Regions from separate parts of the Homo sapiens genome. Here regions 2 and 3 are each linked to region 1. The links come from fine-mapping of genetic effects on gene expression. A gene starts in region 1. Each other region holds a variant in brackets. All regions are shown on one strand. Distances are from middle to middle. Region 1 holds the start of USP22 (ubiquitin specific peptidase 22). Region 2 overlaps USP22 (ubiquitin specific peptidase 22). Region 3 overlaps DHRS7B (dehydrogenase/reductase 7B).

The links. PIP is the estimated chance that this variant, and not a neighbour inherited with it, causes the effect.
Region 2: its variant is the best candidate, but not a certain one, in a credible set for the expression of USP22 in aorta (GTEx, PIP 0.55).
Region 3: its variant is the best candidate, but not a certain one, in a credible set for the expression of USP22 in whole blood (INTERVAL, PIP 0.59).

What each region holds. Positions count from the first base shown.
Region 1 is chr17:21,041,293-21,044,053 of GRCh38, forward strand. It overlaps USP22 (ubiquitin specific peptidase 22), which reads right to left and starts at 1,719. Exons shown (of 13, transcript NM_015276.2): 1 at 1,373-1,719. The coding sequence starts at 1,543. RefSeq lists a silencer at 1,405-2,004 and enhancers at 1,540-2,489, 2,490-2,761.
Region 2 is chr17:21,005,813-21,008,573 of GRCh38, forward strand. USP22 (ubiquitin specific peptidase 22) reads right to left here. Exons shown (of 13, transcript NM_015276.2): 9 at 2,058-2,184; 10 at 1,084-1,175. Among named protein-coding and RNA genes, the nearest start is that of USP22, 36 kb to the right of the region's middle. The variant G/A (reference allele first, on the strand shown) is at 1,709.
Region 3 is chr17:21,152,700-21,155,460 of GRCh38, forward strand. The region is part of intron 1 of DHRS7B (dehydrogenase/reductase 7B); the gene reads left to right. Among named protein-coding and RNA genes, the nearest start is that of DHRS7B, 27 kb to the left of the region's middle. The variant A/G (reference allele first, on the strand shown) is at 1,698.

The sequences.
Region 1 (2,761 bases):
ATTACAGATAAAAAAAATTTTGAGGCCGGGCACGGTGGCTCATGCCTGTAATCCCAACACTTTGGGAGGCAGAGGCGGGTGGATCACCTGAGATCAGGAGTTCCAGACCAGCCTGGCCAACATGGTGAAACCCCGTCTCTACTAAAAATACAAAAATTAGCCGGGCGTGGTAGCAGGAGCCTGTAATCCCAGCTACTCAGGAGGCTGAGGCAGGAGAATCGGCTGAACCCGGGAGGCGGAGATTGTAGTGAGCCGAAATCGCGCCACTGCACTCCAGCCTGGGGTACAAAGCGAGACTTCGTCTCAAAAAAATAATTTTTTTTTTGAATTACTGCTTAACATACCCTACAATCTCAGCGAGCCTGTTGGTATTCCCATAAATAAAAAAATGCCACTCAAGGTGGAAACTGCCCTCACAACTCCCAATCTCGGATTGTAATCTACAAAAGCGCGTGAAACTGTAAAAATAAACTTTATTCACATAGAAGAATCACGTTACGTTTTGATTTCCAAACCCTTACCAAGCCTAACTGCGGGACGCAAGACTGGGCTCCCCGAGGGGACTCACTCCTGGTTAAGGCCTCCCACAGCCCACGGCGCGCTTCCAAGTCTACTCCTCAGCCGCAACGCAAACCCGGGCTGTGGCTCCGCACCCACAGGCTCGCCCCGGCCCCAGCCCCTGCCGCCCTCCACCTCCAGCTCCTCGCGGGCCCCGAGGCAGCCGCGAAGCTCCGGCCCCGCGCCCCCCAGCCCGCCTCCTGCCCCAGCTCCCGTCCAAGGTCGCTCCTGGCGGCGGGTGACCGCTGCAGACCAACGCCCAGAACTCGACAGCCCCCCATCCTTTACTCATTTTTTTGAAATATTTCTTTCTCTGCACCCGCATCCAGCCCCGAACCCTCCAGAACCAGGAGAGTTCCCCGCAAGGACCTCGCGCAGGAACGCCCGGGACCGCCCACCGAAGTCCCAGGCTCCCCAGGCAGCAGGGCAGGAGAACACCACCCCCGGCCCGGAAGCACTCGCCCCTCCCGGGCCAAGAAGGATAAGGGAGGGGGAGGGCGGAGAGAAAGGAGGGGGAGGGGACAGAGAGGAGGGGGAGGGGACAGAGAGGAGGGGGAGGGAAAGGAAGAATGGGGGAAGGGGGGAGAGGGGAAGGATAGGAAGATGAGGAGATAAGGGAAGGGAGAGAGTTGAGGGGGGAAGGAAAGGAGGGGGAAGGGGTAAAGAGAAGAGAGGGCAGAAGGAGAGAGGAAGAGGAAGGACAGGGAAAGGCAACGGGGGAAGGGAAGAGGGCAGGAAAAGGGCCCCTCCGCCGGCCGGCCTCAGGAGCGGCAGAAGGCCCCGAGCCCGCCGCGCGGTGGGCTGCCGGGCGCACCTTGCGCTTGCGGGCCTCAGCCGTGCCGCTCCACACGAAGCACTGGTAGATGGCCCGCAGGTTCTGCTTCCAGTTGTCCACCTTGAAGCTGCCCAGGTGCGAGCAGCCCGGCGGCGCTACCGCCAGCTCGGCGTCCATGGCCTCGCCCTCGGGCTCTGGCCGGGACACCATGGGGGGCAAGGCCCGGCCGCGCGCGGGGGGCGGCGGCGAGGGAGGCGAGGACGACGCCAGCGCGGCGTGGGGGCTGCTCGGCGGCTGGCCAGGCTGGCCAAGGCCCGGGCGCCGAGAACAAAGCGCGGAGGCCGGACAAAGATGGGGCTGCGCGATCGCCGAGGGGAGGCTGCAAGGCAGGCACCGCCCCCGAGCTGCGGCTGCTGCGGACCGCCTGCGCTGCGCTCTCGCGGTTCGCGGAGGGTGTCGCGGGGCGGGGCGCCGCGGCCGCGGACGGAGATTACGTCACCCCCCCCCCCCCTCCCGGCCGGCACCGCACTGCGCAGTCTCCAGCCCGCGCCAGGCCCTTCCCCCACACTCGCGCGCCCGTTAGGCTCTGGGTAGACCCGCGCCCGAGGAAGCGTGGTAGGGGGGGGAAGCTAACGAGGGCCCGCCCCTCCCCTTCCTTTATTGGTAGTAGGCCACCCCCCCCCCCCCCCCGGCACCTTCGGCTATTGTCATAGGCTCTCAGTATAGTCCGTCTGGTACAGAGCCGCCTCCCGGGACCCTGGCGGCTAGACGTTCCCTGTCTCTTCCAGAGGACTGGGGAGGCGGGGGCGTGCTGCGGTTGGGCGGCGCGAGACGTCAGTCCTAGCACTGAACCGGTTTGCGCCGGCCTGAGCTCTGCCGCAAAGAGGCGGGGCGATGAGCTGGAGCGCCGCAGGTCGGGCCTCCATCCAGGGCCTGCGCTTTCCCACCCAAAAGCACCCCCTAATCGGGAGCTGTTTGCAGGGCCCCCGGTTGCCGTAACCTGGCTCGGGCCCTGCAGTGCCGTGGCCCGGGGCTGGAACTGCCTGCCAACTGCCTGGTAGGCGCTGCCCCCGGCCGCAAGCTGGGGCGCCTCCTGTCGGGAGCCCGCTGATAGTGAGGGCCAACCCGGCGCCATCCAGTTTAAAGAGGCATCTGCGCGCCACACGCCTGACACTTCACATTTGCTAGTGGCTACATTTTTCTAATGAAAAAAGAAAGTTACAGTAATATATCTCAACCCAATAAAGTCAAATTATTTCAGCATGTAGGCAGTATTGCAAAATCGTTAGTGGAATGTTTTACAGTTTTTGCAGCAAGTCTTGGAAATCTGGTATTTACACTTAAAGCACATCCAATTCCTACTAGCTGCTACCGCAGTGGGCGGCACAGGTCTAATCGGTATACAAATAACTGACCCAAGGCAAACTG
Region 2 (2,761 bases), 35 kb before region 1:
GACTGGGACCTCATTTGTAAAACCAGTCTTTGCAGAGACTCAAAGTAAAGATGTTGAGATGAGATCCTCCTGGATGATCTGCCTAGGTCCTAAAGCCAATGACCACGGTCATGACAGAGAAGCAGAGGGAACTGGACACAGAGTCAGGGGAGCTGGCCATGTGACCCGGAAGCCAGGGGAGTGACAGCCACAGAAGGAACACGTGGAACCACCAGCAGCTGGAGGCGGTGAGGAATGGAATCCCCAAGACCCTTGTAGGACATGGAGCCCTGCCAACACCTTGATTTCAGATTTCCAACCTCTAGAACTGTGAGGAAATTAATTTTAAGCCGCCAGGTTTTTGGTCATTTGTCACAGAACCACAGGAAACTCCTATGTGTCTCATGCATTAGTAAGCAGCTGAATTCCAAGTACCCCAGAATAGGCAGATTTGAAAAGGAAAATGCAATCTACAACTGCAAAACCAACTATGTCTGCCTGTACTTCAACATCTGTTCCACGAACTAAAATGTTGCCTTCTCGCTGTGATCCCACCTTGAGGACTTTGCCGGTTTGAAAGTGGATTGATAATTGTTGAGAAATTCAAAACAAAAACAGGGTATCTGATGAAAAACAACTCATTAACATGTGCTGTATCTTAAGATCAGGATAAACAGATTTGGGGAAGGTGGGGTTTATATTAGTATCGACAGTCATTTTTTTTTTTTTTTTTAGACGTAGTCTCGTTCTGTCACCAGGCTGGAGTGCAGTGGCGCGATCTTGGCTCACTGCAACCTCCACCTCCTGGGTTCAAGCGATTCTCCTGCCTCAGCCTCCCAAATAGCTGGGACTACAGGTGCCTGCCACCACACCCAGCTAATTTTTGTATTTTTAGTAGAGACGGGGTTTCACCATGTTGGCCATGATGGTCTCAATCTGTTGACCTCATGATCTGCCCGCTTCGACCTCCTGAAGTGCTGGGATTACAGGCGGGAGCCACTGCACCCGGCCAACAGTCATCTTAATAGGAGCTCCGAGCTGGATTCCTGTCCTGATAGGATCACAGCCCCTCAGGACACAGAACGGGCCTACAACCCCACATACCTGGAGGCCATGAAAGGGGTCATGTCCAGCTCCAGGGGGAAGGACACATACGTGGTGATCTTCCGCCGCAGCTTGGCTGAGTGTTCAAATCGCTGCAGAAATAGGAAGGGGACAGAGGGAAGAGGAAAGAAGATCAGAAATGTCACTGGAAGCTTCAGGGCCTTCTTCTGATGACAGGTGTCTGTGTTATCTCTTTTGTATTTTATTGAACTGCCTTGTAGCTACATCTAGAATTACAGATTCAAAAACACAGTGGCAATCCACCCAAGTCCTCATTTACAGGGTTCAAGTCTTCAAATGATGGGACTGTTCAGTGGTAACACCAAGGGTACAAAAAGTAATCTTACAGCAAACCCAGCAAAGCACAGAAAACAAAACAAAGATCCGTGGCCCATGGCAGCAAAAATGAACAAATTGTTCCTTTCACCAGACAGAAGACAGTCCTTTGCCTAGATCAGGAGTCACCCATTCCAGCCAGCAAGCTAGGAATGGGCGTTTTCCATGTTTAAAGGGTGGTGAAATGAAACAAAGAACATGTAACAGAGAATCGTATGATCGCACGCAGCCTGTGGAGCTCGACATCTTCAGTTATCTGGGCCTTTAGAGAAAGAGCTTGCCAACTCCT[G/A]GACCAGATCTGCATGCTGAGGGCCTTTGTCTTAAAATAAAACAGAAAACCTGAGGAGGGGGTAGCTGGAGGAATGGTAGAAGTAATAAAAACTTCACAACCACTCTGCTCCCAAGAAAACTCACATTCTACTTTCACTGCGAAGCCACTGATTTTGTTTACCGCAGCACAGACAAAAGGACAATTCACAGATGGGAGGACAATTCCCTCACACCCTCCCTTCCTCGGTGTTCTTCCTGCTTGCTGCAATTATAAAAAATGTAACTGCACAGCAAACCAAAAGGCTGAGGACCGTACTGTGGACTAAAAACTAAGTCTGCCATTAGAGTTGGCTTTCTGGAAAACTTACTTTGAGATGAAAACAGGCTACGATGGGCAGTTTCTTCATAGTGAGCTGCTTTGTGGACTCCTGGTAGCTATGGCAACCGCTGCACTTGATCTTGGCGCTGCTGCCCAAGTGCTCTGGTCTGGTGAATCTACAGGCGTTCAAAAAAGACAGGAGCGGTAAGGGAGATGCAAGAGACAGAAAAATGAGAGGAAAGAGGTATTTTATCTCTTTCATTGGGTTGATTTCCCTACCAAAAACATACACTTACAACTAAAAATGAAACAATGAAAAAAAGAGAAAATGTTGTCCACCTTTGCTGCCTGTCTCTACAGAATATTTATCTTAAATATTTTTTTTCCAGGAAAGGCCTGGGGAAATGGTAATAATTTTCTAAGTACCATATGACCCAGCAGTTGAATTTGAGCCAGAGAAATGAAAACTAATGTTCACACACAAACTGTCCACAAATGTGCACCAGAATGTTACTCACGAGAGTCACAAAACTGGAAACACCCCGTTTCTTCCCATGGCTGAATAATTAAAGAAACTGTGGAACACTGTACCATGGAGTATGAGACAGCAGCAAAAAAGGAAGGAACTACTGATCCCAAGCTGTACCCTGGATGCGTCCCCAGAGAATTAGGATGTGCAAGAAAAGCCAATCTCAAAGGGTTCCGTTATATCATTCAGTTGACATGACATTCTGGAATTGTCAGGCGTATGGA
Region 3 (2,761 bases), 110 kb after region 1:
AAACTATTTTACCAGAGTCTAACTTACTTTGGGGAAGGGTAATACTCAACCTCAGCTCACTCTATTCTTTCATGTGGGGAAAATTAATACCCAACTCCAGCCCTCTCTAGCCATCCTGTCCCACCTGAAGGGGGAACACTGAGAGGCACTGGTGAAATTTATAGTTCACAGGCTCACCAAAAAACTGAGACCTAATAGGACTGTAGAACACTTCCCCTTCCTCCAGCACCTTACCACTACGTTACTAAAGGCCTGTTTGCCACAGTTCTTTTTACCCAGTGCATCCTGTCCACCTTTTGATTAAAAAATTACAAGTCATACTAAAAGGGAAAATACACAGAAGAGACTGAAGAAGCATCAGAACCAGAGTTTGATATGGCAGGAATGCTGGATTTATCAGACCAAGAATTTTTAAAAATCATGATTAATATGCTAAGGACTTTAATGGAAAAGTAGACAACATGCAAGAACTGATGGGTAATGTAAATAGAAAGATGAAAAATCTAAGAAGAAAAACAAAATGCTAGAAATCAAAAGTGATACAACAGAAATGAAGAATGCCTCTGATGGGCTCAGTAGACGGGACATGGCAGAGGAGAGAATCTCTGAGCTTTGAGGATATGACAGTAGAAACTTCCAAAACTTAAAAGCAAAGAGAAAAAAGACTGAAAAAAACAGGAACAAAATATCCAAGAAATGTGAGATAACTACAAAAGATGTAACATACACATAATTGGAATGCCAGAAAGAAGAGAGAAAGGAATAGAAGCAATATTTTAAGGAATAACGTTGAGAATTTCCCCCAGAATTAATCTCAGACACCAAATCGCAGAACAAGGAAGTTCAGAGAACACCAAGCAGGATGTCTTAGTCCTGTAGACTGTGTAATTTATAAAAAAACAGAAATGTCTTACAGTTCCAGAGGCTAGGAAGTAGAAGATCAAAGCACTGGCAGGTTCACTGTCTGGTGAGGGCCTGTTCCTTATAGAAGGTGCCATCTAAGTGTCCTCACGTGGCAGACGGGATAGAATGGGTGAAAAAAAGGGGGAAGGGCATGTAATCCCATTCATGAGGGCAGAGCACTCATGACTCAATCACCTACAAAAGGTCACAACTCTTAATACTATTGGATTGGGGATACAGTTTCAACATGAATTTTAAAAGGGACAAAAACATTCAAACCATAGCACAGGATAAAGGGAAAAAAGACTATACAGACATTTCATAGTCAAACTACAGAAAATCAAAGATAAAGAAAAAGATCTAGAAAAAAACCAGAGAGGAAAAATGCTACCTATAGAGGAGGAGAGATAAGAATTACATCTAGGTTGGGCATGGTTGCTCATGCCTGTAAATCCCAGCACTTTGGGAGGCTGAGGTGGGTGGATCACCTGAGATCAGGAGTTTGAGACCAGCCTGGCCAAACATGGTGAAACCCTGTCTCTACTAATAATACAAAAATTAACTGGGTATGGTGGCATGCACCTGTAATCCCAGCTACTCTGGAGGCTGAGGCAGGAGAATTGCTTGAATCCAGGAGGTGGAGGCTGCAGTGAGCCGAGATCGTGACATTGCATCCCAGCCTGGGAGACAAGAGCCAAGCTCTCTCTCCAAAAAAAAAAAAATTACATCTGACTTCTCAGAAATTATGCAAATGAGAAGAGAATGGTGTGAAATATTTAAAGCGTTGAGAGAGG[A/G]AAAAAAACCCACCAACCTGGAATTCTGTACCCTGCACAATTATCCTTCAAAAGCAAAGGAGAAATAGAGACTTTCTCAGACCAAAAATAAATAAATGAAATTGGAGGAATTTGTTGCTGGTAGACCTGCCTTGCAAGAAATGTAAAAAGTTTTTCGGAGAGAAAGAAAATGATATGAGTCAGAAACTCTGATCTACATAAAAGAACAACATTGGAAAAAGAATAAGTGAAGGTAAAAGAAAAGCATTATTTTTCTTATTCCTAATTGACCTAACAGATAAAAGTTTGTTCAAAATAATCATAGCAACAATGTATTTTATTATGTATGCTTTTATATACCAATACATTATGTATATAAATGAACATAAATATGTGTTTATGTATTTTTAGTTATAAGTGAAATGAATGACAGCAACAGTGTAAGGGAAGAGAGGGAAGAATCAGGAGTATTTTGTTATTATATGATACTTGCAATGCCTGTGGAGTGATATAGTGTTATTTGAAAGTGGACTTGGATTCATTGGAAATGTATACTGTAAACTCTAGGGCAACCACTAAAAAAAGTTTTTTTAAAAAAAGAAGCATAGTTGATAAGCTATGAAGGGAGAGAAAATAGAATCATATAAAATGCTCAGTTAACCACAGTGGGCAGAAGAACTGTGGAAGACAAAAAGAGGAGCAAAGAACAAGGGTAACAAATGAAAAAAAATTAACGAATATGGTAGCTATTAATCCAGCTATGTCAATAATCACTTTAAATGTCAGTGGTTTTGTCAGTTACATCATTTAAAAGGCAGAGATTGTGAGAGTTTATCAAAGAATAAGACCCAAATATATGTTGTCTACCAGAAACCAACTTTAAGTATAAAGACACATATAGATTAAACATAAAGAGATGAAAAAAGATCCACCATACTAACACTAATTAAAGAAAGTGGGAGTAGCTATATTTCTACACAGAGTAGACTACAGAGCAAGGAAAGTTATCAGGGTTAAAGAGCATTACATTATGACCGCAGATCAATCCTCCAATAAGACAATAATCTTTAATGTATATACACATA